Linked DNA regions of Homo sapiens. The protein of the gene in region 3 interacts with the protein of the main gene of each other region in a pairwise test. Each region holds a gene or a part of one and is shown on either strand. Other genes may lie near its edges. The genes, in order: SLA2, PTPRJ, MET and TNS3.

The links.
Region 1: the proteins of MET (region 3) and SLA2 interact in binary tests that used the Homo sapiens proteins (3 or more experiments, as listed by UniProt).
Region 2: the proteins of MET (region 3) and PTPRJ interact in binary tests that used the Homo sapiens proteins (3 or more experiments, as listed by UniProt).
Region 4: the proteins of MET (region 3) and TNS3 interact in binary tests that used the Homo sapiens proteins (3 or more experiments, as listed by UniProt).

The regions. Positions count from the first base shown.
Region 1 is NC_000020.11:36,615,194-36,622,216, forward strand, and holds part of SLA2 (src-like-adapter 2), read right to left. Parts: intron 182-7,023; coding exon 32-181; intron 1-31. UniProt on the Homo sapiens protein: Adapter protein, which negatively regulates T-cell receptor (TCR) signaling. Inhibits T-cell antigen-receptor induced activation of nuclear factor of activated T-cells.
Region 2 is NC_000011.10:47,976,665-47,983,579, reverse strand, and holds the start of PTPRJ (receptor-type tyrosine-protein phosphatase eta isoform 1 precursor), read right to left. Parts: upstream 3,022-6,915; 5' UTR 3,010-3,021; coding exon of another isoform or gene 2,668-3,009; coding exon 2,572-2,667; intron 1-2,571. UniProt on the Homo sapiens protein: Tyrosine phosphatase which dephosphorylates or contributes to the dephosphorylation of CTNND1, FLT3, PDGFRB, MET, KDR, LYN, SRC, MAPK1, MAPK3, EGFR, TJP1, OCLN, PIK3R1 and PIK3R2. Plays a role in cell adhesion, migration, proliferation and differentiation.
Region 3 is NC_000007.14:116,696,191-116,703,213, reverse strand, and holds part of MET (hepatocyte growth factor receptor isoform b preproprotein), read right to left. Parts: intron 4,144-7,023; coding exon of another isoform or gene 4,130-4,143; coding exon 2,930-4,129; intron 1-2,929. UniProt on the Homo sapiens protein: Receptor tyrosine kinase that transduces signals from the extracellular matrix into the cytoplasm by binding to hepatocyte growth factor/HGF ligand. Regulates many physiological processes including proliferation, scattering, morphogenesis and survival.
Region 4 is NC_000007.14:47,579,093-47,586,774, forward strand, and holds the start of TNS3 (tensin-3), read right to left. Parts: upstream 3,020-7,682; 5' UTR 2,959-3,019; exon of another isoform or gene 2,781-2,958; intron 2,607-2,780; exon of another isoform or gene 2,414-2,606; intron 804-2,413; exon of another isoform or gene 759-803; coding exon of another isoform or gene 747-758; intron 1-746. UniProt on the Homo sapiens protein: May act as a protein phosphatase and/or a lipid phosphatase. Involved in the dissociation of the integrin-tensin-actin complex. EGF activates TNS4 and down-regulates TNS3 which results in capping the tail of ITGB1.

The DNA.
Region 1 (7,023 bases), on a different chromosome or scaffold from region 3:
GCCTAGTCCTGGAGGCAGGGAAAGGCCATACCAGAGTAATGGTCCACCAGGGCCTGGAGTGAGGGGAAGGTGAGGCGCGGTGAGATGTACAGCCAGCCATTGTCAAGGCAGTGGATCCTGTAGTGTCTGATCCGGTCCCAGGATGCAGGGCGGCTGAGGCGGACTGACAGAGAGTAAGAGCCTGAGGAGAAAGGGGTCCAGGGGTGGCACTGAGGCCCTGCTGGGACTCGGCCCCACCTAGGCTGGGAAACGAAGATAGGCAACGTGACCATGGGGCCCCGGCAGAAGGGAAGTGTCTGGGGCAGAAGCAGGACAAAGACTTGCTCTCTTGGTCATCAATAATATGTTCATAATAGATGGGGGTCTTGTGAGGGTGAAATCAAATCACACACAGAGCCCTCAGTACAGGGTCTGGCACTGTGTGAGTGAACATTCAGCGTTGGCTGTTCTTACAAAGACTCAGGTGGCAGATATGTTAGGATGCAAAAACACTGTCAAGAAGATGCTGGCAAGGAAGTGGAGAAGTAGGACCTCCCACCCTGCTGGTGGAAGAGAAATTAGTACGAGCCACCTTGGAAACAGTTTGGCATTAACTAGATGAGCTGAACATGCACGTACCTTACAACCCAGCAGTTCTTCCCAGGCACAATACCTCAGAAGCACACAAGCAATATGCACAGCGGCATTGTTTGTAAAAGTCAAAAACGGCAAACAGCCCGTTTGTGCTCAAGAGTAGAATAAATTGTGGATTATAGAGTGTAGTGCTATACAGCAGTAAAAATTAATAACTGCTACATATAAGCATAAGGAAATCTTGGAAATTAAGCAGAAAAACATTACAGAGCATACATTCAGCCTGATTCTATTTAAAGTTCAAAGATAGCCAACATGACATTATATGTTGCACAGGCACACACGGCAAAGCTCTGAAGAAAAGCAACTGAATGATTAACACAGTGAAGCATGAGAGGGGGCTACAAAGGGCTTGTTAGGTAATTTCAGCTGGCAAGTGGGCGCGTGGATGTCAGTTTTATTAGTGCTGCTCAACCTACATGTATACATTACATACACTGATGAATGACAGTTTCACCAGCTTTGCATGTTTCATTTTTTCATTTTTTTTTTTTATTTTAATTTTCTTTTTTTTTTTTTTTGGAGACAGAGTCTCCCTCTGTTGCCCAGGCTGGAGTGCAGTGGTGCAATCTCGGCTCACTGCAACCTCCGCCTCCTGGGTTGAAGTGATTCCCCCGCCTCAGCCTCCCGAGTAGCTGGGACTACAGGCGCCTGCCACCACCACGCCCGGCTAATTTTTTGTATTTTTGGTAGAGACAGGGTTTCACCATATTTGCCAGGCTGGTCTCGAACTCTTGACCTCGTGATCCGCCTGCCTCAGCCTCCCAAAGTGCTGGGATTACAGGCATGAGCCACCGCGCCCAGCCAGATTTTAATTTATTTTTAGAGCCATGCTCTCGCTCTGTTGCCCAGATGGCGTGCAGTGGCATGATCACAGCTCCTGGGCTCAAACAGTCCTCTTGCCTCAGCCTCCTGAGTACTTGGAATTATAGGCGTGAACCACCCCGTGCCTGGCCATATAAGCACATTTAAAATATTAAAACAGGCTAGGGGCAGTGGCTCACGCCTGTAATCCCAGTTCGAGACCACCCTGGCCAACGTGGTGAAACCCCATCTCTACTAAAAATACCAAAGTTAGCTGGGTGTGGTGGTGCACACCTGTAGTCCGAGCTACTTGGAAGGCTAAGGCAGGAGAATCACTTGAACCCAGGAGGCAGAGGTTGCAGTGAGCCGAGATTGTGCCACTGCAGTCCAGCCTTGGCAACAGAGCAAGACTCTATAAATAAATAAATAAAAAACCCAAGGCCGGGGACGGGTGCAGTGGCTCACGCCTGTAATCCCGGCACTTTGGGAGGCCGAGGTGGGCGGATCACCTGAGGTCAGGAGCTCAAGAACAGCCTGACCAATGTGGCGAAACCCTGCCTCTACTAAAAATACAAAAAAAAAAAAAATTAGCCAGGTGTGGTGGTGTGCGCCTGTAGTCCCAGCTACTTGGGAGGTTGAGGCAGGAGAATTGCTTGAACGCAGGAGACAGGTTGCAGTGAGCCGAGATCACACCACTGCACTACAGCCTGGGCAACAGAGCGAGACTCCATCTCAATTAAAAAAATAAATAAACAAGGCTGGGCAGAGTGGCTCATGCCTGTAGTCCCAGCTACTCTGAAGGCTGAGGCAGGGGGATTGCTTGAGCCCGGGAGGTGAAGGTTGCGGTGAGCCAAGATTGTGCCACTGCACTCCAGTCTGGATGACAGAGTGAGACCCTGTCTCAAAAAAAAAAAAAAAAAAAAAAAATTAAAACAAAAGTTAATGGGCCGGGCGCGGTGGCTCACGCCTATAATCCCAGCACTTTGGGAGGCCAAGGCAGGCGGATCACAAGGTCAGGAGATCAAGACCAGCCTGGCTAACACAGTGAAACCCCATCTCTACTGAAAATACAAAAAATTAGCCAGGCGTGGTGGCGTGCGCCTGTAATCCCAGCTACTCAGGAGGCTGAGGCAGGAGACTCGCTTGAACCCAGGAGGCAGAGGTTGCAGTGAGCCGAGATCAGCCACTGCACTACAGCCCGGGCGACAGAGTGAGACTCCGTCTCAAAAAAATTAGTCCAGGCGCAGTGGCTCAAGCCTGTAATCCCAGCACTTTGAGAGGCTGAGGCAGGCAGATCACGAGGTCAGGAGATCAAGATCATCCTGGCTAACACGGTGAAACCCTGGCTCTACTAAAAATATAAAAAATTAGCCGGGCGTGGTGGCGGGCGCCTGTAGTCCCAGCTACTCGGGAGGCTGAGGCAGGAGAATGGCGTGAACCCAGGAGGCAGAGGTTGCAGTGAGGCGAGATCGTGCCACTGCACTCCAGCCTGGGTGACAGAGCGAGACTCCGTCTCAAAAAAAAAAAAAAAGGCTAAAAGTAAAAAGATGGAAAAAAGATATATCATGCAGACAACCATAAGTAAGCTAGAATGGCTTATTAATGGGAGAATGTTAGTGGGATATTAATATCAGACAATAGAATTCAAAAGACTGGAGTGCAGTGGCATGATCTTGACTCACCACAACCTCCGCCTTTCAGGTTCAGGTGATTCTCCTGCCTCAGCTTCCCAAGTAGCTGGGACTACAGGCACGTGCCACCATGCCCGGCTATTTTTTTGTTTTTTTAGTAGAGATGGGGTTTCACTATGTTGGCCAGGTTGGTCTTGAACTCCTGACCTTGTGATCTGCCCACCTTGGCCTCTCAAAGTGCTGGGTTTACAGCTGTGAGCCACTGTGCCCGGCCAACAAATTTAAAAGGATTGAAATCATTAAAAATATGTTGTCTGGCCACAATGGAATTAAATTAGAAATTAATAAGGAAAAGGTATCTAGGCTGGGCGCAGTGGCTCAAGCCTGTAATCCCAGCACTTTGGGAGGCAGAGGCTGTTGGATCACCTGAGGTCAGGAGTTCAAGACCAGCCTGACCAACAAGGCAGCCTGACCATCTGTACTAAAAATATAAAATTAGCTAGGTATGGTGGCACATGCCTATAAATCCCAGCTACTTGAGAGGCTGAGGCAGGAGAATTGCTTGAACCCAGGCAGCGGAGATTGCAGTGAGCCGAGATTGTACCATTTCACTACAGCCTAGGGAACAAGAGTGAACTCCATCTCAAAAAAAAAAAAAAAAAAAAAAAAAAAAGTATCTAGAAGCCAGGTTTGGTGGCTCACGCCTGTAATCCCAACACTTTGGGAGGTTGAGGTGGGCAGATCATTTGAGGTCGAGAGATTGAGATGCGTCTGACTAACATGGTGAAACTCCATCTCTACAAAAAATACAAAAAAATTAGCCAGGCTTGGTGCCAGTAATTCCAGCTACTTGGGAGGCTGAAGCAAGAGAATTGCTTGAACCTGTGAGGTGGAGGTTGCAGTAAGCTGAGATCACGCCACTGCACTCCAGCTTGGGCAATGGAGTGAGACTCTGGGGGAAAAAAAAAAAAAAAAAAAAAAAGGCTGGGTGCGGTGGCTCACACCTGTAATCCTAGCACTTTGGGAGGCTAAGGTGGGTGGATCACCTGAGGTAAGGAGTTCAAGACCAGCCTGGCCAACATGGTGAAACCCCATCTCTACTAAAAATACAAAAATTAGCCAGGCATGGTGGCACACGCCTGTAATCCCAGCTACTTGGGAGACTGAGGCAGGAGGATTGCTTGAACCTGGGAGCAGGAGGTTGCAGTGAGCCAAGATCACGCCACTGCACTCCAGCCTGGGCAATATAGCAAGACTCTGTGTCAAAAAAAAAATTGGAGAGACTGAAGTGGGAGGGTCACTTGAGGCTAAGAATTAAAGACCAGCCTGGTCAACATAGAGACCCCCTTCCCATGTCTGTACAAATTTTTTTCTTTTTTTTTTTTTTGAGACAGAGTCTCGCTCTCTCACCCAGGCTGGAGTGCAGTGGCGCCATCTCGGCTCACTGCAAGCTCTGCCTCCTGGGTTCACGCCATTCTCCTGTCTCAGCCTCCCAAATAGCTGGGACTACAGGTGCCTGTCACCACACGTGGCTATTTTTTTTTGTATTTTTAGTAGAAACGGGGTTTCACCATGTTAGCCAGGATGGTCTCGATCTCCTGACCTTGTGATCCACCTGTCTCGGCCTCCCAAAGTGCTGGGATTACAGGTGTGAGCCACCGTGCCTGGCCAAAAAAAAATTTTTTTTTAATTAACCAGGTGTGGTGGTGTGAGCCGATAGTCACAGCTACTCAGGAGGCTGAGGCAGGAGAATCACATGAACCCAGGAGGCAGAGGCAATTATTATGCCACTGCACTCCAGCCTGGGCGACAGAGCGAGATTCCACCTCAAGAAAAAATAAAAACAATGCTGGGCGCGATGGCTCACACCTGTAATCCCAGCACTTTGGGAGGCCGAGGCGGGCAGATCACGAGGTCAGGAGTTCAAGACCAGCCTGGCTAACATGGTGAAACCCCATCTCTACTAAAAATACAAAAATTAGCTGAGCGTGGTGGTGGGCGCCTGTAATCCAGCTACTCAGGGAGCTAAGAATCACTTGAACCGAGGAGGCAGAGGTTGCAGTGAGCCGAGATTGCGCCACTGTACTCCAGCCTGGGCAACAGAGCTTGACTCTGTCTCAAAAAAATAAAATAAATAAAATAAAGAAGATACAGAAGAATATAATTTGAGAGACCTCTGAAAAGTATGGCAAGATTAAAACCATAGAAGTTATGGAAGACAAGCAGAGTCGAAAAAAGGATTTGCTTTTGTAACTTGATGATCAAGATATAGTTTTTAAAATTGTTCAGAAATACCACACTGGCTTTTTTTTTTTTTTTTTTTTTTGAGACAGAGTCTCCGTCTGTTGCCCAGGCTGGAGTACAGTGGTGAAATCTAGGTTTACTACACCCTCCGCTTCCCAGGTTCAAGGGATTCTCCTGCCTCAGCCTCCTGAGTAGCTGGGATTACAGGTGTGCACCACCAAGCCTGGCTAATTTTTGCATTTTTAGTAGAGACAGGGTTTCACCTTGTTGGTCAGGCTGGTCTCGAACTCCTGACCTCGTGATCCACCCGCCTAGGCCTCCCAAAGTGCTGGGATTACAGGTGCGAGCCACCACGCCCAGCCAGAAATACCACACTGTTAATGGGCATAATGGTGAAGTGAAAAAGGCCCTTACTAAATAACAGAGGTAGCCTGCTGGATGGTAAGTAGTCGTGGAGGTGGATCTGGCAATTTTACAGGTTACAGAGGAAACTTTGGAGGTAGTAGAGGTAATTTTGGCTGCAGTGGAAACTTTGGTGGAAGAGAAGACTGTGGTGGTGGAGATGGTGGCAGCAGAGGTAGTTATGGAGGAGGTGATGGTGGCATCAATGATGGTGAGCCTGCTTATAGCAGTAGACGGGGCTGCTGTGGTGGTGGAGCAAGATATGAAAACCAAGGTGGTGGATATGGTGGCGGTGGCGGAGGATATGATGGTTACAATGAAGGAGGAAATTTTGGCGCTGGTAACTATGCTGGTGATGGGAACTATAATGATTTTAGCAATTATAGTGGACAACAGCAATCAAATTATGGACCTATGAAAGGAGGCAGTTTTGGTGGAAGAAGCTCAGGCAGTCCCTATGGTGGTGCTTATGGATGTGGTGGTGTAAGTGGTAGATATAGTAGCAGAAGGTTCTAAAAACAGCAGAAAAAGGCTATAGTGTTGTTTTTTTTTTGAGACGGAGTCTTGCTGTGTCACCAGGCTGAAGTGCAGTGGCGCGATCTCGGCTCACTGCAGGATCTCTGCAGGAGAATCGCTTGAACCCGGGAGGCAGAGGTTGCAGTGAGCCGAGATCGCGCCACTGCACTCCAGCCTGGGTGACAGAGCAAGACTCCATCTCAAACAAAACAAAACAAAACAAAAAACAAAAACTGAACATCACTTGCTTAACAATGAGGATAAATGTAAAATTAAAATTTATTTTAAAAATAAGAACTAAACATTGGCCAGGGACAATGGCTAATGCCTGTAATCCAAGAACTTTGGGAGGTGGAGGTGGGAGAATCACTTAAGCCCAGCCAGGAATTTGAGACAAGCCTGGATAACATGGTGAGAGTCTTTCTCTACAAAAAATTTAAAAATTAACCAGGCATGGTGGTACATGCCTGTGGTCCCAGCTACTCCAGAGGCTGAGGCAGGAGAATCGTTTGAGCCTGTGACGTTGAGGCTGCAGTGAGCCATGACTGTGCCACTACACTCCAGCCTAGCCAACAGAGGAAGACTCTGTCTCAATCAATCAATAGCTGAACATTGGCTGGGTGCGGTGGCTCACACCTGTAATCCCAGCGCTTTGGGAAGCCGAGGCAGGTGGATCACCTGAGGCCAGGAGTTCAAGACCAGCCTGGCCAACCCATGGTGGAAGTTGCAGTGAGCCAAGATCATGCCACTGCACTCTAGCCTGGGTGACAGAGCAAGACTTGATCTCAAAAAA
Region 2 (6,915 bases), on a different chromosome or scaffold from region 3:
AAGGGGAATGAGATGCCAGTTCAAAAATTGCTTTTCCGGGCCTACTAAGCACTGAGCCTTCCGGCATCTCAGCTTTCCAGCTTCCACACCCGCCCTTATTAATGTCCAAACAGAGCTGTGTCTTTTCCATGACTTGTCCATTTGTTTAACCTGGTATAGTTGATTCCATTTTATAACACACACATAAGCACATACACACACAATCCAGGCCTCAAAAAACCAGTCAGCTCTTAGGAAGGTAGTCACATACTTGTTTCCTAAACAAACTTCAGAAATATCTCAAATTGATTCAACTTTGAAAAATTCCATTCACACCCACCATTTTGAGAAGACACAGTGATACGTCCCTATCATTAAAAGTAAGATCAAAGTGAAAACACGGGAAAAAAAAAAATAGCACTTTGAAAATATGAGGCCCAGGCCGGTGACCCAGGTTCCCATCTTGTCTTCTCTAATACCTTGCTGGGTGACCTCAGCCTGCTCCCTGTCTTCTCTGGACATCAATATCCTCATCTAAGAGCTCTGAGGGGTTTCAGCTGTCTTGAAAGTCTGGTCCAGCTCAAAAATGCACTGATTCCCTGAAATATCCATTATCAAAATGAACTGCTGAATGTGGATTTTGAAGATGCTTCTTCTGGGAGCCTTTTAGACTTCCTATTTCATAATGTGTCCAAAAAAAAAAGAAATAAGAGAGTCCTTTTGAGGTTCTACAGAACAAACCATAGAGGAAGGAAATATCTAAATACAGGACAAGTGTAGAGTGGCAATATGCTAATGAAATACAAGGAAGGATTGAGCAAGCAATAAATTTACCCAAGAAACTTTTTGCTGATTGAGAACACAGCTAGCAACCACTATGGCTGGAGCAAAAATAAATAAATTTTATATATATATAATTTAAAATTTTTTTGCTGAAGCAAAAAAAAAATTACATATATTATACATTTAAAAATAAATGAAGCTTTAAGTTTGGGGGTTTTCTGTTTTTTGTGGTTTTTGTTTTAGCATAAACTTTTGATACAAGAAATCTTCAAATACAAGGCTTTTTTAACTTCAGACACTGCTTCCCTGAATTTCCTTACATGGACAGGGAGAAGACAGCCCCCACAGGCACTGTACCTTAATAATGAGAATCCCATGTGGAAACCCTTAATATTTACAAAGTTCTTTTAGACATTGGCCAGTGGAAGCCCCTCAAACAATTCCATTGGGCAGAGGGTGCTATACTCATTCTACAGATGCGGTTAACTGAGGGTAGAGAAGCCTGAAGAGCAAGTCCAGCCCTGTGGCCCGGCCCTGGAGCCAGTCTCCTGACATCTACTCCCAGGTTCTCTGCAGGAGGTCACATTGCCTTCTGGCCCCCAGGAGAGCCTGTGCAGAACCTGCTGGGGAAACTGCGAGGAGAGACCCTTGGGTGCCGAGGGTCACGCAGCCCCCAGGCCCCAGCCCCCTTCTCCTACAGCCTGCTAGGCGGCATTGCTGCCCCAGGGTGATGCTTCTGCTCTCTCCTGTATTCGCGCTGGAGAAGTTTTCCCTGAAACCAGGTTCCATCCCCAGCCAATAACTCATTTCCTCAGAGATGGTGTCTGTATAAAACAAGCAAGATGGTCATTTGCAGAAACGCACAGCAAGGCAGCCCTAGACCGCTTCCCCTGCGGGTTCAAACCCCAACAGGCTCCAGAGGCTAAGAGGACGTGCCCGCTGGCTCAGCTCCCATGGCACGGGCTGGGTGCTCCGCTATTTCACTTCTCTCCCTCAGTTCCCCATCTGTGAAATGGGAATGCCCCTTCAGCTGCTCTGCCTCAGCCCCTATGGAAATGCCAGGAAGGGGAAAGGTCGGTCACCAAAACGCCAGGGACAGCATTATCTGAAAAGTGAAGCCAGAAAAGAGGGTGAGGGTGGGGTGGGGAGGGGGAGCCAGCGCCCACAAAGCACGAATTAAACACCCATGAAATCAAGCACGACGCCAAGAGGGCCGGCTGCCTTGAGAAAAGCCAGCGTGCGGCCACCTTTTCCCCGGCCTGGGAACTTTCCCCAGGAACAGGGCCCTCGGCCCGGAGTCCCGCGCCTCGCCCAGGGCCCCACTGCCCAGCGCCTGGCCCTGCCCTGTCGCCCCCGCCGCCCCTCGGGCCCCTGCAGGCCGGGTCGGAGGTCTGTCGGCAAAGGCTCAGCCAGGCCGCCCGGCTCTGCGTCCCCAGACCTCCGCAAACACGCCCCCTCCGGCCGCCTCCGGCTAGGAAGCCGGGCCCGTGCCCGCCAGATGTGCCCAGCGCCGGGAAGAGCCGGGCCAGGGACGGCCTGGAGCCCGCGCGGAGGCTTTCCCCGGGAGGCTCGGGCACCGCGGCACCCGGATCCCGCCTCTCTCCCCCGATCCTGGGCAGCCGGAAAAGGGATCGATCGCCGGCGTGCGAGGCCGGCCGGGGTCCCCGCAAGTCGCCTTCCGGGGATCCGGGGATCCGGACCCCCGCCCCCTTCCCCGGAACCCCCCGGGGGGGTACGCTCGGGCAGGTGCAGTCAATGCCAGTCCCGCCCCAGCCTCCTGCCCCCCGCCCGAGCCCACCCGGCGCTTACCTGGCCCAGGCGCAGCAGCAGCAGCAGCAGCGGCAGCGCCCAGCGCAGCCCGGGCGAGCGCGGAGGCAGCCGCGCCTCCCGCGCCGCCGGCTTCATGCCCCGCGCGCCCTGGAACGTGCCCCGGACGCGCGAATCGGGCCCCGCCGTGCGCCCGAGCCCGGGCACCGTCGTCGCCGCCTCCTGCCGTCTCCTTCGCCTCCTCCTCCGCCAGCCGGTCCGCCTCGTCCCCGCTCCGCCCGCCCCGGGCTTCCCCGGAGACATGGCAGCGGCGGCGGCGGCCGCGGCCACACGCCGGAGCCTAGCGCGGCTGCCGCGGGGGGGCCGCGTCCCTGAGCGCGCAGGGGCTTCGCGGGGCGGAGCGAGCGGCGCCCACCCCCAGCGCGCGGCTACCCGGTCCCGGCTCCCGCGGCTGCTCCCGCTGCCTCCTCCGCGCGTCATGCGGCTGGGGCTGCTGCAGGGAGCCGCGGCGAGCGCTCGGCCCCCTCCCTTCCCCTCCCCCTCTGAATATTCATCGCTTCCTCCCGCCCCGGCCGGCCCGGCGGCTGCGGAGCTCCGCAGCCCCTCGCCGCCGCCCGCCGCTGCCCCCGCCCCCTCCGAGCCGGCCGCGGATCCCCTCCCGCGGGCAGAGGAAGCGCTCCCGCCTCGCCCGCCCCTCCGCCCAGCCCTCCCACATTCCTGGGACTTGGAGCCCGGGACCAGGCTCCGTGGCTCTAGCGCCTCGAGCCGGCACCCCTCAGGACGGGCTCCCCAGCCTCACACCAGGTCCACGGCGCCGGGTTCGGGTGGGCAGAGGTTGACCGAGACCCCTACTGAGAGCGCAGCCAAGCCTGATTGTAGACAGCAACCCGGCGAAGGCGCGTTTGACCTGGCCCTGGGTGGGCTTGGGGGTGCGTGAACCCCGAAATTGTAGAAGGCACGCTGTACATTGTGTTCTGTCCCCCAGCCCCCGAGCGCCGGCCAGGGAGGCAGAGAGCCCAGTACAAGCCAGTCCAGGGATTAGAACCCCAGCTGTGGCATATGGTGGACGGGGCTCTGCTGGTAGTACCAGCCCTGTGAACTCTGGAGACGCATTTCTCCTCTCTGGCCGACCCCACCCACCCTCCTCTCCTCCCGTGTGAAATAAAGATCGTACTAGGACGTGTGGAGAGAGAGGTCCACTGCATTCGCGATTAAACGAGACAGTAGTTAGTAAAGTCCTAAACACCTAGCCTGACACATCGTGGGACTCCACATACATTAGCTCTTCTGGAAGCTTTCATCACGTTGTTAAAGAGGTCAATGAACTGACAGGAGTTAAAGATCACAGCAGATATTACTCCTGTGCCCATGCACAGAGGAAGACACTAGGATCAGGGAGGCTATGCCACTTGCCCAGGAGAAGCCGCAAGAGAAAGGGCCAAACCAGAGAGTGCTAAGGAGGAAGAGGTTAATTCCAACCAGGAGAGAGGTGACACCTGAGCTGGGCTTTGAAGGATGTGTTGAGTTTCACCAGGCCAGTAGAGGGGAGAAGTGTCTCAGGAGGTGGGGCCAACTTGGCAGAAACGAGGCAGCAGATGCTTCGAGCTTGGCCTTCGGAGAAACAGGAATGGGAGGCTGGGGGATTCATACTGGGGGAGACTTCAAAGGCCAGGATAATGAGTCTAGGCTGGATTCTGTGTGCAGCAAGATGCAGACCACGAGGTGTCCAACACTACCTCCAGACACCCGTTGGGCCTCAGGTTACCATCTACAAGATGGGAATACACATTCACTTACAGGGTCTAAGTGGTTCCCACCAGACAACACACCCAGACAAGCACTGAGGATAAAGAAACTTTGCCAGGCCGCACGATGGCTCACGCCTGTAATCCCAGCACTTCCGGAGGCCAAGGTGACTAGATCACTTAAGCTCAAGAGTTCGAAACCAGCCTGGGCAACGGGGTGAAACCCAGTTTCTACAAAAATTAGCCGGGTGTGGTGGCACACAGCTGTAGACTAAGCTACCTGGGAGGCCGATACAAGGATGGCTTGAACCTAGGCTGCAGTAAACCAAGATGGCAACACTGCACTCCAACCTGGGGAATAACGTGAAAACCTGTCTCAAAAAAAAAAAAAAAAAAAAGAAGAGGCTGGGCGTGGTGGCTCACACCACACCTGTAACCCCAGCACTTCAGGAGGCCGGGGCAGGCAGATCACTTGAGGTCAGGAGTGCGAGACCAGCTTGGCCAACATGGTGAAAACCCATCTCTACTAAAAATACAAAAGTTAGCTGGGCGTGATGGCGTGCCTGTAATCTCAGCTACTCCAGAGGCTGAGGGCAGGAGAATCGCTTGAACCCGGGAGACGGAGGTTGCAGTGAGCCAAGATTGCACCACTGCACTCCAGCCTGGGTGACAGAGTGAGACTCCATCTCAAAAAAAAGAAAAGAAAAAGAAAAAAGAAACCTTACCTATGGACTTACACACCTTGCCACCCTTCATTTAAACACTATGTAATTATCATAATTCACAAGGATTTTTGTTCCTCTGTGCCTCCTCCCCTCTTGAGGCAGAGACATAAAAGGTGTTCATGTCCATGATACCCAGAGGGAAGGAAAGCTTGATTTAAGATGCTACCAGGGGGCTGGGCACAGTGGCTCACGCCTATAATCCCAGCACTTTGGGAGGCTAAGGTGGGCGGATCACCTGAGGTCGGGAGTTCAAGACCACCTGACCAACATGGAAAAACCCTGTCTCTACTAAAAATACAAAATGAGCTGGGTGTAGTGGCGCATGCCTGTAATCCCAGCTACTCGGGAGGCTGAGGCAGGGGAATCGTTTGAACCCAGGAGGCAGAGGTTGCAGTGAGCAGAGATCGCGCCATGGCACTCCAGCCTGGGCAACAAGAGTGAAACTCTATCTCAAAAAAAAAAAAAAAAGATGCTACTGGGTAGCCAAGGATGATTGCCAATTATAAAAAAGAAAAAGAAGATGATAGTAGGTCTGCAGGCTGCCTCGGATCCTCACAGACCCTACAGACCCTACTAACCCTGAAGACCGACCCAGGTCTCCACAGATTCATGGCTTGGGTCAGCAAACAGCTCTGTGAACTCCTGCACGCCCTTCAGTTTTCTCCTGGGTAAAATGTATGCCCAGCTTAAGTATTGGTTGGAACTGGATTTCGCCACTGCACAGTGATGAAACAAAATAAACAGCCTTTTCAGGAAAGGGAGTGAAGACCTGAATAATAAACTACCTCTTCAGCCATAAACAGATCACACTGGATTAATGACCTCTGAGAGAAATGAAATTAATCCTGGGTAGGTGTTACATCAACTCCTTGAGGACAGGGGTTGGGACCTCCTCACCTTGGTAGCCCTGCAACGTCCCACTCAGTGTCTTGCCTGTAGCAGGGATTGAATATTCGTGCAGATGCATGGCCACAAAAATGTATCCAGGGGTAACATGATGTGAAAGTTTATTTTTCGGCTGGGCGCGGTGGCTCACGCCTGTAATCCCAGCACTTTGGGAGGCCGAGGTGGGCAGATCACAAGGTCAGGAGATGGAGACCATCCTAGCTAACACAGTGAAATCCCGTCTACTAAAAGTAGAAAAAATTAGCCAGGCGCAGTGGCAGGTACCTGCAGTCCCAGCTACTCGGGAGGCTGAGGCAGGAGAATGGCATGAACCTGGGAGGCGGAGGTTGCAGTAAGCCGAGATCGCACCACTGCACTCCAGCCTGGGCAACAGAGCAAGACTCCATCTCAATAAAAAAAAAAAAAAAAAAGAAAGAAAGAAAGTTTATTTTTCCACGAAGATAAGTTGGGGAAGGATCATTCCCTTTGCAATGGATTTGAGACTATATTCCAGTCTATAGGTTTCTCCATCACATGTCACTTCACCTAGAAATTCCAAGATGCCCCAACACTGAGTTGGGTGCACTTCCTCCTCCATCCACCATAGCTCCCTGTGCTTAACCTTATCTAACCACAATTTTGTAATTGCCTGTTTATTTGACCACCTTCCTCGCTGGACTCTAAGACCCTTGAAGATGGGGTCTGCATCTTGTTTATCATTGTATCCTCAGCAAATAACAGTCACTCAGATAATATTGATTTAAATTAAATAGCAAACTAAGGTATTCTGTATATGCCTGTTCTCTCACGCACAAAACAAATTCCATCTGCAAACAACTTTTCAGGAATAAATTCTACTATGCAAAGTTCAGGACACATTCGCCTTGAGAATATACAATATTTGACCTTCTAATCATGTCTCCTTCAAACAAACCTAAAGCTTTACTGAACAGAGGGCTAGATAAATAGAGGACCAAAAGGCTAATAAACCAAGAACCTGGAGTGGAGGGCTCCTGGATGCATTCCAAAAC
Region 3 (7,023 bases):
ACTGACATAGTCAACAACACTGGTATTCTATAAGTGGGCATTTGTGGCTTGGGATAAGTTTCCAGAAACAGCATCATATGTGGAGACAAAGAGTTCTGAAGCACAAATAGCTTATGGGTGAAGATGACGAGTACTGGGAATTATCAAATGACTCAAAAGAGGGCTTTTGTGATGTCATCAATATGAGAAGATGCATGTGAAGAGTTTGCATAGACATATTTCATGAAATGTGAGACTGGGAAAAGCAACAAAATATGTGATCCTAAACAAGCAAGTCAGGCCTGGTACACCTGCTGGACCCCTAAAATGTAAAAGGCCCGTCCCTGGCACTCCCATTATCTGATCTTGTGATAGAAACACTTTTTGCACATGGTGGAGAGCTCTTGGAGTGCCAGGAAATCCCTCTTTCAGCAATGTGTCAACACTGAGGACTGGGCAGAAGCATAAGTAGAAAGTTACTGCTGCAGCTCAGCTTTCTTAACCTTGTCCACAAGAGTCCCTTTATAAATGTATTAGAGATGTTAATAACAAAACTACAATATGTGTGTCTTTTCACCAAACTTGATGCCAAAGTAAAAACTCAGTTCCAAGAAATTATTAAAAGGGTCACTTGATTTCTGGCCAAGTAAATCTGCCAAGACAAAATGGAGTCATCTTATTGCTTGAGAGTCCTGCTAAACAGCTTTGATCTTGTAATCATTTTGTTTTTTTTGTGTGTGATGAATGGCTCTAGGTGCCTTCATTTTGGCATTAAGCTAGGAAATGATTATATGCTCATTATTGGAACAATCTGAGGTCTGGATGGGGTATATGGAGAGAGAGAATATGTGTAGTCTCAGTCTCAGAAGAATTTTGATCTTTGTAACCAGAGAAGATAAACAGGCAAATAAATAGAGGAGGTTTGAAGGTATTTGTCTATGGAATTTGGCCAGTGTAAAAGTTGGCTTCCTTTGTAAGAAGACTATGTTGGCAAGTTCCATCTTGTTTCCCGCAAGAATTTTTGTGATGGGAGTGATAATGGTTTCAGGTGTGGCTAGTGCATTTTGGGAATTTTTCCTGGGCGATAAAACTGACCTGAATTTCATTGGCTAATCCTGTCTGTTTGTCTCCCTTGGAACACTAAAAAAGTCAAAAGGGTAGGATAAAATTCAGATGTGTTTTGAGAATTTCTAGAATTGATAAGTATTTTTACATCTAAGGATTGAAATGTACAAAATTTAAAAAATGAGATATCAATATACCTTTATGAATTCTCTTTTTAATTTTTTTCTTGCCCTACCCTTCTTTTTAATTTTTAACAAAGAAAGATTTAAATAGCAAATCCATGTGCTCTAGGAGCCCTGGAGGAATTCCTAATAGACTCTTTTAAAACTTGTGTCTCAGAATCAACTTACTGGATGCAGAAAAATATCTTCTCTGTAATGCTATTAATATTATATTTTTATTTCCTAATCCCAGGTTTCTGAAAATCATTTTGTTTCCTTTCATTCTTTTGTAGTTTCTAGTAAAGAAAAGGGGGAGCTTCATAAGGAATTCTATTGCTTCTTTGCAACATATATTAAATGTATGTAGGGGGAAATAAGTCTTAGTTGGAATGTATGTGCATTTATGTTATGTATATTCATAGACTTTGGAAGAGAGAGGAAGGAAGTTTTGTTTTTAGTTCACCAAAAGATGAACTGACTTTCTTGGAAGTATTTTCCTAGCATCATAAAAAGTTAACTATAGTTTCCATCTAGAGAAGTGTCCCAGACATTTCAGCAAAAGTCAACCAAATGTCTCTGAATTCATATGCCTTTACCCCTCAGCAAATTATATACTTTATGCTACTGAGGACATGTTTAATGTTCTACCTGATTGCAATTATAACCTTTATATCTTAGATTGAAACCTGTTAAAGTAAGTGAAACATACCATGCCAAAGTCAAACTGTCTTTAGAAAAGCTATACTATTTGTTCATTCAATGATGGTCATAGTCAGGTCCGTATTCCAAATCTGGCCCAGATCAAGAAACTCAAAGCCACAATAAACACTCAGACCAGGTGATCAACTGACTAGCAGGATAAATCTCCAGGTATAGCTGGTAGCTGTTACTATATTTAAATCACAGCACCAAGAATATCTCTAACAGCTCCTAAGAAAATACCATTTCATATAAGTATAAATAATCATCAACCAAAATATTTATGCTTATAAATAACAAATACCAACCAGGTAAAGTGCCAAGCTAGAACTTGGTAGACACAAGTCTTTTCCAGAAGGAAGTCCATGATTAAAGTCAAGCTCTAAAGGAAGGACTTGGGAACAAACATTTCCTCTCTACTCTTACAGGTTATTTAGAGAAGTATACGAGCTCATTTAAAAATGTTTTATTTACCAGCATTTCAGAAGAGGTTTTTTAAAGTTAAGTTCCTTTAAGTAATGTCAAGAATATAGATTAATCAGTTGTGTATCAGTGAGAGAATATAATCTCATAAGGAACAATTCTTTAAGGCATACAAATTAGCTTGAACATCTTGTAAATGTTGCAGAGATTATATAGAAATGTCAATAATTATGTTTTATGGGAATTGCTGCTGTGATAAAAATCTGTGTAAATCTGATAAAATCTGTGTAAATCTGATAAAATCTGTGTAAATATAAAAAAGCTTATATGGGAAATAACTTTAATATAATCTGAAATGTCACGAACATGCAAATCTGAATTGTAAAAACATTTTTCTTTTAGTTACCATTTACATTTTAAAGATATAATTTTAGGTGTAAATGAAGATTCAATTCCTCAATTTTCTTGGAAAAAATCTGCAACTATTTTGGATAAACACCATTTACAAAGCACAAAAGAAGCCCTGGATATTCTTTTTGAGACTGATACTTATTTCTAATTTATACCTCACAGTTTATAAGTGGGGAACTGATGTGACTTACCCTATTAAAGCAGTGCTCATGATTGGGTCCGTAAAAATGCTGGAGACATCTCACATTGTTTTTGTTGACGATCTTGTTGAAGAAGTCGTTGACATATTTGATAGGGAATGCACACATGGCAGATCGATCCATTGGTTCGGCAGAATCTGGCTTGCTTTGTGCGAACACCCCGAAAAGAATGTCATCATTCAGGCTGGCTCCTATTTGTCTAGCAAGCTGGGCCCCAGGCTTGCTGACATACGCAGCCTGAAGTATATTAAACACTTCCTTCTTTGTGGATCTCTTTTTTCTCTTTTCTGTGAGAATACACTCCAGAGGCATTTCCATGTAGGAATGCAATCCAGAGTTTATGGAACAGAACCTGATTATTCTTGTGTGAAAAGTCTGAGCATCTAGAGTTTCCCTTTGGACCGTCAAGAAGTAAATAAAATTGTTGCTTTCAAAGGCATGGACATACTTAATGGGGTAAGAATCTCTGAACTCAGGTAAAACATCAATGTAGGACTGGTCCGTCAAAAACATAAAACCATCTTTCGTTTCCTTTAGCCTTCTCACTGATATCGAATGCAATGGATGATCTGGGAAATAAGAAGAATTTATGGTATTGCCTACAAAGAAGTTGATGAACCGGTCCTTTACAGATGAAAGGACTTTGGCTCCCAGGGCGCTCACCACACAGTCAGGACACTGGCTGGGCTCTTCTATCTGTGGGGAGAATATGCAGTGAACCTCCGACTGTATGTCAGCAGTATGATTGTGGGGAAAGACATGTCGCTGGCAGGTCCCTCTGTTGACGCTGCCACAGCTAATGAGTTGATCATCATAGTAGGTGTCGACAACTAGAGCCATGTTGATGTTATCTTTCCAAACACCTCCTGATAAATTGGCTTTGCTGCTGCAGTCCTGACATGGGAAACAATCTGGGTGTTCCAGCACAGGCCCAGTCTTGTACTCAGCAACCTTCTGAAGGTCTTCCTCATTTAAAACATAAATGTAGTTAGTGGCACCAAGGAAAATGTGATGCTCATGTAGAATGACATTCTGGATGGGTGTTTCCGCGGTGAAGTTGGGAAGCTGATACTTCATATTCACATTCATCTCGGACTTTGCTAGTGCCTCTTTACACTCCCCATTGCTCCTCTGCACCAAGGTAAACAGGAGCACGAGGATGCCAGGTGCAAGCACAGCGGGGGCCTTCATTATGAGAGGTTTATCTGCCAAAACAGGTTCAAGGCGAGAGCAGTTCAGTTGTCAGAAATGAAGAGAAAACTGAAAGACCTATACCATTTAATCTATCAGAAATAAAGCTTCCCAACTGGACTTTTACATAGAAGGAAAACAAAAACTCTAGCAAGTTTCACATAAAGATGCATTGTGCGGTTGGACATGACTCCACATAGTTTAATTTTAGAACTCAAGCCATGAACGAATAATTTTAGAGAACCATTGAGATGCAAACAATGTTCTGTATTAAGGTTGATACAGTAACTAAGTTAGACTCATTCAGCAATGAAAGAAAAAACATAGCAACTTTCTTTCTTAACCCCTTGCTGGTTGTTTAACGTGGTTTAATAACTGTGGTTAATGACTAGGTTGATATTTAAACTTTCTCTGTTAGTCAAGTAAAGGAACTGTGGTTCACATTCATTTATTCTAGAAATCACAGCAGGCATTGTTTTCTTGAGCGCATGTAGAATTACTAGGCTAAATTTAGCTTCCTTTTGGAAGAAAACAATCATAAATTCTAGAAGCAATATGATCACATGCTGTTTATAGGATTTTGTGTGGAGAGGAATGGTATGGTTATAATTTGGCTATAGTTAACCTATTGTTTTAGACAGACAAATGTTTAATGTAAGATCACTGGGAACTGAAAAACAGGAGGCTGAAAATGTATAAAATACAACATAATCTTCAGAACTAAAGTCCTAGAACTACTTCTCAGGGAAAAACAACATATTGTTCATTACCAAGTCAAAAAGCTATTTAGTAAAAAGAACATTATTTTAACATTTCATTGTATGCATATAGACAGTATTTCTATGAGGAAACATGAATGGGCCTGTTATTCAGTATTTAAAACTTAAGGTGCACAAGTTATAAACATTGTGAGTTCTCCTTATAATAGTTATAGGCAGGGTAGTAGGTTGGAAAGGAGAGGCCTTAGAATGAATATAAACTAAATAGGTATGACTTTTTTTTAAATAGCATAATTCTGATAGGACAAAGGGAGCCTCTAAAAACATACTAGGCATCATGACTGCCAAAGACTAACCCTGGATCTACAAAAACCACATCAGAAATCACTGAGCAGCTGGTATGTGCAGGGCACTGTGCTTGCGCTATGAGAAATGGGACATAGCCCCTGCCCTTCAGTGAAGCTGCAATGTGGCTGAGTGATAACACATATATGCTGATTATTGTGGCACTGCAAATGGTATTACAATACCCTGCATAGCACAAACCAAAAGCTACAAGTATCAAGGGAAAAAAGCACAGCCTGTACTTAGGATTATTATGATCATGAGCAATAGAGACAAGTTCACCATGTTGTGAGGTCCAGGAGAGCAAGGACAAGGTCTGCTTGGCTCATCATTGTATCCCAAGTACCTAGTACAGAGCCTGAGATGCAGAAGGTGTTAAACAAATAGATACTGAATAAATGATGAATAAAAATTAAGCCGAAATTCGAAGTTACATAATGGTTAAGTGTAGTAGCCAAAATTTGCGTCCAAAATTTTTTGACTCCAAATCAAAAATAATTTTACCCTACTAATAGTCTAAGAATTGGGGACTTTAAGAGGTGATTAATAATCATTAAGGAATTTTGAGCTAGACCGTCATACAATGAAGGTTTTACTCTAGGAAGATTGATCTGGAGGCAGGGTGGCTTAGAACAGAGAGATCCTGGCAATGGAAAGACCAGTTGACAGGCTATTTTTATATCCCATAATGAGGTAACAAGAGCCAGAACAAATATGGTAGCACCAAGGATAGAAGGAATGAATAAGGGACATATTTGAATAAGTAGGATTTGATACCCTAATATATCAAACACAGTGCAAAAAAGAAAGCAAAGACAAACAAAGATGATTAGCAGTTATCTGGAAAAAGTAGAACAAGTTATAAAACTAGGGTAGACTGCACTGGGAAGTTAGGCTGAATATATGGGAATGGTAGATTGGTTTTAACCACGTTGAGTCGGGTGTGCTGCTGGGAAATGAGTGCATATTCTCCTATAAGGATGACTAGCAGGTTTTACATTATTCACCAGGAAGCAGGTGCCTGGAACAAGTGAAGAATGAAAACTCTGGGCAGACAGAGCATTAGTGCCAAAGAACAGAGGCGGAAATGAGAAGGATTCTGAGAAGCCTGCCTTGACTGGGAAAGCGGCATGATCAGTCTTGGGTGAAACAGTATCTGTCTTGAGTGAGACACATGAGTGTCAGGTATTTGCCACTGCTGCACTAGAAGGAATAAAAATTTAGAACTTGATTGGCAGAGTAACAGAGACTCCACTCCGACTAGAAATAAACTTTGCACATTATCTGCACAGAGGTGATGGTTAAAACCAGGAATGGGTGTGTTCATGAATGGACTAGATGAAAGAAGAGAAGGCAAATGGCCTAAATCTTAGGGGATACCCACAGTTGAGAAATCTATGCAGGAGTCAAGGAAGGTTAAGGTCAGTGAGGCATCAAGAGAGCAAATATTGCACTGTGTCACAAAAGCCAAGTGAGGGTCTCAAGGAGGACGTTGGTCCACATGGAACCCGTTTGTTGATCTTCAAGGCAGTAGTTTCTATAGTAGTATCAGATGTTAAATTGAGGGAATGGGTGATGAAGAAGTAGAATGTTTATCAAAGGGAAGACAAGCAAAAAGTAGTAACAGGGTGAAAAGGAGTTTAAATTGTGGGAAAGACATATGATTATTGGCAGGACCCCCCTTTCTTCTACTAACATTTATTGGATGTCTACAAAGACATGATGCCCTTCCCTGGGAAGCTCAAGTCACTTGATGGTTAACAGTTATCAGAATGCAGAGGAAGGGAGACCAACTCGACTGGAAATGATGCTAGAGCCGAGTCTCAAAGG
Region 4 (7,682 bases), about 69 Mb from region 3:
GATGGTTTTTAATACTCTTGCTGTGAGGAAGAGAGTAACTAAGTTAATCAACCACCTACTTAATTAACCAACTAACCAGCATCCCTCATTCTAGATCAACAAGGATAGCAGCAGAGGATTCTAGGTAGACAGGACTGGCTCTAGGTCATTCCAGGCACAGCTTGCAGGGGTTAGCTGATTCCCCAGTGATTTCTGGGGTCCTACAGGAAGGACCCGGGGTCCCAGGGTCAGCTGACCTCCTGGAGAGCTTCAGACGCCCAGACCCACCCTTCCCATGATAGCTCCTGCTGCATGGGGCAAACCCACCAGATCAACCCGCAAGACAGGAGGCCCCTCCCTGGGAAATCTATGGGGGCCGCTGTGAGGAAGCCTCGAAGCCTCAATTCTAAGCGTGCTGCTGAGGCACTCAGCAAATGTCTCTGGCTTCCTAGTAAGTGGCAGGGATCTAAACAATGCTTTCTGCCCTCAGGAAGGTGGAAAGTTCCTCCCCCTCTCAAGTTCATACACAGGGACACAGGGAGGGAACAAGAGGCTTCCCCTGAACAGGGGTGGTTTACAACAGGCTGATCTTAAGAAAGGAATGGGGCACATAGAGTCAGAGAACTGGGCTCATTCAGATCCCTAACTGTTCCCAGACTTTAAGAATTTACTTGGTATTTTACTCATCTGTAAAATGGGTCCTTGTGTAGAGTCCTAAGCAGATATAAGCTGCGACTGCCAAATGGTAGGTCAGCCCTTCCACTCACTGTTCTTGCCATACTGCCTCCTCCTCAGGTCTCTGCTATCCCCTTCAGCAACACCTCCTGCAGTGGAAGAGCATACTTTGACACCCCCTCTCCTGCCCTTTATTTCCAGAGTCACATTTGCAAACAGCTCACTTTCAAAACATTAGGTGCCAAAGAGACACTTTGTTAAAAAAAAAAAAATCAATTTGCATTCAGGAATAAGTAGTGCCCTGGGGCTACTAGTTTTTCTATCTTGGTAGTTTTTTAAAGACATAATTCAGCTGAGCTGCTGATAGCTATGGCAGCCTCAGCTGAGGAATCGCTGTCTGGACATGCATTAGAATTCAGTCGACAGACGCGCAGCAGCAGCCAGGAACAGGGGTCTGGGACCCTAGAGTCCTGTCCCAGAATCCCAGGCTGCACTACCACCATGTTTCATTTCATCTCGGCCAAGTTACTTAGCCTTCCTTTGCCTCAGTTTACTCGTCTGTAAAATGGGGTAATCATAATCCCAACTCCCTCCAAGGAATGTAATTTGGGTGAAATGAAATGAATGCATGCAAAGCATTTAGCACAGGCAAACACTCAATCGGTATGCCTGTTACTTTGTCTTCGGGGTCACCATTACTATTCCTAAGGTCAGGAGTCGGGCTTGCTGCCAGTTCCTCCTGTCAATTCCCTGTGTACACACCCCCCACCCCCTGTGCTACCACACCCCCACCAGGACCCAGTGCACCTCCATCTCTGTGTAATGGCCTTGCCCCTCCACCCTCCAGCTGCAGCGACTCCCCACCCCCTCCCTGGCCCTCAAGGCCTCAGCACAGAAAAGCCTTTCTTAATACTTGTTGATTGATTTGCAAATATAACCTCACAGGCCCCAAAGAGAGAAGAACCAGAATCACCAGAACAAGTAAACCTCATTCAAAAGGGAAAGCATGAAAGCAATTTAAAAAATTAATATGCACAGACCAAAGCCTCAAGAAAATCTAAAATGTCAAAGGGTTGGTTAGTTCAGAAGGGCCATGCAATATTAATACAATGAGTTCTGCATTCATACTTTTCAGTATATTTTCAGAGTCCTCCATGATCATGCATTCAAATAGTGAAAAAAATGGGGGGAAAGCCAACCCGGAAGATCAAAGTGTGTGAATGCGCCCCAAGGAAGCCTGGGGGCTTCCCAGGGGGTTGTGACCACCCTCAGTAGTGCTCTCTGCTGGCCCCACACCCTGATGGCGCTTTGAGTTTTTCAACCACGCTGGAGTTCGGGTCATCTGCTGACACTGTCTGGAGAATGCCTGAGGAACGCCTGAATCTCTTCCCGCCACAGACACTCAAATCACTCCAAGCAAAGGACCCGGGACTCACATGTCAGGCCGCTGCACAGCACCGACACAGAGACCCCTGGGCCGTCCGGGACCCTCCCTCCTCCTGCTTGTCAGCGACAGCTCCCGCGTGCCAGGAGGCACATGCCACACAGCTGGCCCCCAGCCTGGGACAGCACCCCCCACCCCAGAATATCCCCCCACCCCGAGGTCCCGTCCTTCAGGGAAAAAAAGGAAGCGCGTAAAGACCCCCTGCCTCCCACCCACCAAAGGGAAAGGGAAAGAGACGCACTGGAGAGCTTGCCTAGAAAAAGTAGGAGAAGGGTCTTGAGCCTGCCCATTGAAGCCCCTAGCTGCGCTCTCCACCTGGAGTCTCGAGACGGAGTCCTAGGGAGCAAAGTCCGCTCGGTCCCGACAGCGACTGCGACATAGCTGCTCCGGTCTCTGCCCTCAGTCCAGGGCGCCCGGGCGCCACGGGTCCCACTCGAGTGGTCCTGCGCCCCAGCCAGTCCCCAAACCCAGCCAGTCAGCGCCCCCGTCCCCGGACTCCGGCGAAGCTGGCCCGCGCCCCAGCCCCTGTCCTGGGACTCCTGCCGAGCCCCCGCCCCCCACGCGCCGCAAACCCCGTACCCGCGCGCACCAAACCCCTTGCCCGTGCGCCCCCAACCGGGTCCCCGCGCTCCCTAACCTGGGTTCTCCCGTGACCCCATCCCCGCGCCCTGAGCTCCCGTACCCCGCGCTCCCCGAACTCTGTCTCCGCGCTCCCCGAACTCAGTCCCCGCGCCCCAGCTCCAGATCTCTGTGCTCCCCAAGCCTCGTTCCTGCGCCCGGAGCGCGAAAGCCCGCGCCGGGCCCGAAACAAAGAGGACCGCGGCGCGTGGCCGCGTTTCCTCCTTCCCCGGCCCCAGTACCTGGGGGAGCCTGAGGCGCGGTCCGGCAGGGCGATGGCCGCAACGAGGCTGGGCTCCGAGTAGCGCGCGGGCGGGCCCGTCCTCCTGGCTGGCTGCCGGCGCCCGCGGCAGGGCCCCCTCGAGGCGGCGCGGGCAATCGCCACGGCCGGCCCCCGCGCCCGCGCCCCGAGCCTGGCGGGTCACCTGGCCTCATCACCCTAACAATGCAGCGCGCCTCCAGGCGCCCTTCACCGGGGTCCCCCGCCCTGCCGAGGTGCGCCCTGGGACCTCCCTTCGCTGGCCGCAGAGAGGACCTGGAATTATCAGACCCATTGAGCAGCCCAGGCTCCAAGTGGTCTGGAGGCTTGCAGGTTCCGCCGGGCCGGTGTTAGAGTACCTGGGGAGGCGGGTTCGGATCCTGGTTCCTGCACAACCAGTTCATTCTTTCATTCAGCGCCTGTGATTAAGGTGCTCTCCGGGAGCAAGACCTACCCTCCCTCCTGTAGCTCATAGCCTAGTGGGAGTCGCGCATACATAAAGGAGCACAGCCGCTCCGGAAAGCCTAGGGTGCCGTAGAAGCCCCTGAAATACCCAGCTAATGAAGGGAGGAGGTCAGGGAAGTCTTTAGAAGTCACATGACTTCTTAAAATGCGCCGGGACAAATGAGCAGAATTTAGGCAAGCCAGGGGAAACCAGAAAAACGATCCCGAGCAGAGAGATTCTCAGAGGAGGAAAGGCCTATAGGTTGTCCATCCTGACTGTCCATCCCTGAGATTCAGATGGCCCTGAACTCAGTCGCTTAGCCTCAGTTTCCCCATTTGTGAGATCGGGGGAATGGAAAAAGTTTGCAGAAATCAGAAGTGCTCTTCCTCCAGGGAGGTCACAAGAGAAATTTCATCAGCGGTTTGTCCTGTGGTCCTTTCCAGGAAAACATCCTCCCCGCCAGCCTCTCACAGAAGAGACCTAGATTTCATCTGCCACGTGGAGCAGGCGGTCTCAGAATCCCACCCGGAGCAGGGTCCAGGGCAAGTCTTGGAGGACAGTCACCAAGAACTGCTTTGGATTCGGGAACAGAGCTGCCTAACCCATCCGCAGCCCTGGGGTCCTGCCCTGTTCCTCTGGCCCCTTCAGGGCAGCGGGGGAAGCAGGGAAAACAGCCTGTCAGAGATGGCAGAGAAACCGAGCAAGAATAATTATCCTGGAAAAGACTTTCAGAAGTAACCACCAGAAACTTCGAGTCCCCAGATCCAAACAGCTGAGAATGTGGGGCCTGAGCCACGCTCTGACTCCACTCCCACCACATGAGGAGAAACAAGAGCTGCTTTTCTGGAAGACTTGAACAACCCCTGCTGTGCTCTGGAAGGTAGTGTCATTTCTCATCCCCAGACTGATCTGGGTATTTATTCCCAGGCAAAGGCTTCATGAGCACCATGCCCCAGCCCCTAGAGATGAGGCAGGCATTTTTCCTACACTCTAGGAGACACCAGGTCAAGAGTCAATGAGATGAGTCAAGGGGTGCCAGGGAAGATGCCATAGGGGAAGGTGGGGAGGAGGTCACAGCCAGCTGGGTTAGGAATGGGGGTGAGGCTGGTACTGTTACGATCTCCTTTGTCCTGATAAGGAAACAGGATCTGACATTCTAGGCAACTTGTTCAAGGTCACCCACCTGGTCAGGCGAAGAAAGTGGGAGGGATCAGGACTATCTGGCCTTGAGGCTACTCTTAACTTCTTCCCAGCTGCCTGCCCACACCATCCACTCTGTGCAATTGGACTAAATCATCACTTTGCTCAACCCTCTCTTCCATTAAGACCGTGGTGATCTTCACACCCAGAGCCAATTACGTGCTATTCTGTGCATCACAGAAACCATCATAATGCCAAAAACCATGTTGGCTGAATGACAACATGAATTTGAGCTTCTTGCAGTGTTAGGGCACCCATTTACAGGAGGTGACACTGTTGTTTGTCTGAGAGCTCACAGTCAGGAAAACTCAGTGCAGTGCTGGGGTTCTCTGACCCTTTGTCAGGGAGCCTCTTCTAAAATCTCTCCAAACTGCTACCCACACCCAAGCCAGATGGCCCCACCGGCCACACTGCCCTTGTTGGGGTAGCAATGGAATGGGATGCCCCAACCACACCTTTGTTTCTAGAAAAACTGTGACTTGGGTGCTCATTCGTGCAGTGTCTGTGGTTATATTCCCTGGCAGTGTCCCAAGAAAGGAGAAGAAAAACCGGGCTCCAGTATCCCCACGCACTCTGTGTTGGCTGGGATGGCTGTTCCCCGGGTTCCCCACACCTCGTCTAGAGGCACATGAAGGGAAGCCTCTCTGGATCCCCAATCGGGACCTGGGCCCCTTCCAGAGCTTCGCTTCCCCAGCCCAGGGCCTCCCCACTTCGCAGGCTGCAACTTCAAGTTTCCAAGAAATTAAACAAAAACAGGGCATGAACCAGTATCTGAAAAAGGGAATGTGCATTTTTTCCATCCTTAGCCATCCAAAAAAAACTCAACTTTGAAAACAAAAGTCTCCAACATTTAGCTGAAAAAAAAAAAAAGCAGCAATATGCCAAGAGTGGCCTCTCCCTCCTAGTATGCCAAGCAGAGGGCAGGGGAGTCTGGGCAAGAAACTCCCGCCAATCTCCTTCCTCCCTGAGCCCTTCTTTGCAGACTCATTCTTGCTCCTCCCCTGTAGGAGTTTTAGAAGATGTGTTGGAAGCTTGTCATTGCAATGAAGATTGTCTTTGCCACCGCAAAAATCTGAATTTGTATCCCTAGATCAAGGGAGGTATATGAGCAAGGACTTGGATATTTTTCCTTATTTCTTACTTTCTGTCACTGAAAATATTTCCCAAAGACCAACTGAAAGAGACAGCAGGAAACATTACACAGGATGGAGTTACAAAGCTCTACAGCGCATTCAGAGAACTGTGGAGTTGGAACATGAGCAAATGCCTGTGTTTTGCCTTAAGATACTGAGTCTCGGCCGGGCGCAGTGGCTCACACCTATAATCCCAGCACTTTGGGAGGCCGAGGAGGGCAGATCACAAGGTCAAGAGATCGAGACCATCCTGGCCAATATGGTGAAACCCCGTCTCTACTAAAAATACAAAAATTAGCTGGGAGTGGTGGCACGCACCTGTAGTTTCAGCTACTCAGGAGGCTGAGACAGGAGAATCGCTTGAACCCAGGAGGCGGAGGTTGCAGTGAGCTGAGATCGCACCACTGCACTGCAGTCTGGGTGACAGAGCAAGACTCTGTCTCAAAAAAAAAAAAAAAAAGATACTAAGTCCCTTGAGACTCTTACTAGAACACCTGGCCCTTTCCTCTCTTCCTTTTTCTCTTCCCAAACACACGAATCCTCACCTACAGCTCAACAAAGTGGGCTTTACAGTTGCCAGGCCTGGCTAGAGGCACCTGAGCTTTTCCGTGTCTCAGAACCTTTTCGGAATTTACATAACCTTGGTGTTTGTGATGGCTCATGTCAGATGTCAACTTGATTGGGCTAAGGGTTGCCCAGATAGCTGGTAAAATGTGATTTCTGGGTGTGTGGGTAGCGTGTTTCTGGAAGAGCTTAGCGTTTGAATGGGTAGACTGAGTAAAGCAAATCCATCCTCACCAGTGTGGGTGGGCACCATCCAGTCCTTCAAGGGCCCAAGTAGAACAAAAAGGCAGAAAAAGGGTGAGTTCTTCCTCTTCCTTCTTGAGCTGGAACATTCATTTTCTCTTGCCCTCAAATATCAGTGCTCCTGGTTTTCAGGCCTTTGGACTCAGACTGGCAATTACACCACCAACTTTCCTGGGTCTTCAGTTTGCAGACATAGTTGTGTGAGCCATAATTGTGTGAGCCAATTCCTATAATAAATTTCTTCTAGGCCAGGTGCAGTGGCTCACGCCTGTAATCCCAGCAATTTGGGAGGCCGAGGCGGGCAGATCACGAGGTCAGGAGATCGAGACCATCCTGGCTAACACGGTAAAACCCTGTCTCTACTAAAAAATACAAAACAAAAAAAAAATTAGCCAGGCGTGGTGGCAGGAGCCTGTAGTCCCAGCTACTCGGGAGGCTGAGGCAAGAGAATGGCGTGAACCCGGGAGGTGGAGCTTGCAGTGAGCCGAGAATGCGCCACTGCACTCCAGCCTGGGCGACAGAGTGAGACTCTGTCTCAAAAATAAATGAATTAATTAATTAATTAAATTTCTTCTATAGATCTGCATATGCCCTATTGGATCTGTTTCTCTGGAGAACCCTAATACAGCACCTTGTTTCCAAAAACTGCACCTGCACACCAACTTCTACAAACATGGACCCTGGGAGCCCACTTTGTGGATGCCCACTGCATGGATGCAGATTCAGTTTCTTTTTCTTCTTCTTCTTCTTCTTCTTCTTCTTTTTTTTTTTTTGTAGACAGAGTTTTGCTCTTGTTGCCCAGGCTGGAGTGCAATGGCGCAATCTTGGCTCACCACAATCTCCGCCTCCCAGGTTCAAGCAATTCTCCTGCCTCATCCTCCTGAGTAGCTAGGATTACAGGCATGTGCCACCACGCCCGGCTAATTTTTGTATTTTCAGTAGAGACGGGGTTTCTCCATGTTGGTCAGACTGGTCTTGAATTCCCAACTTTAGGTGATCTGCCCACCTCGGCCTCCCAAAGTGCTGGGATTACAGGCATGAGCCACCGCGCCCGGCCCATGCTCTTCTTCTTAACATACCTACAGGGACTTCGTGCCCTGTGCCAGCCCCATGGCCCTCTGC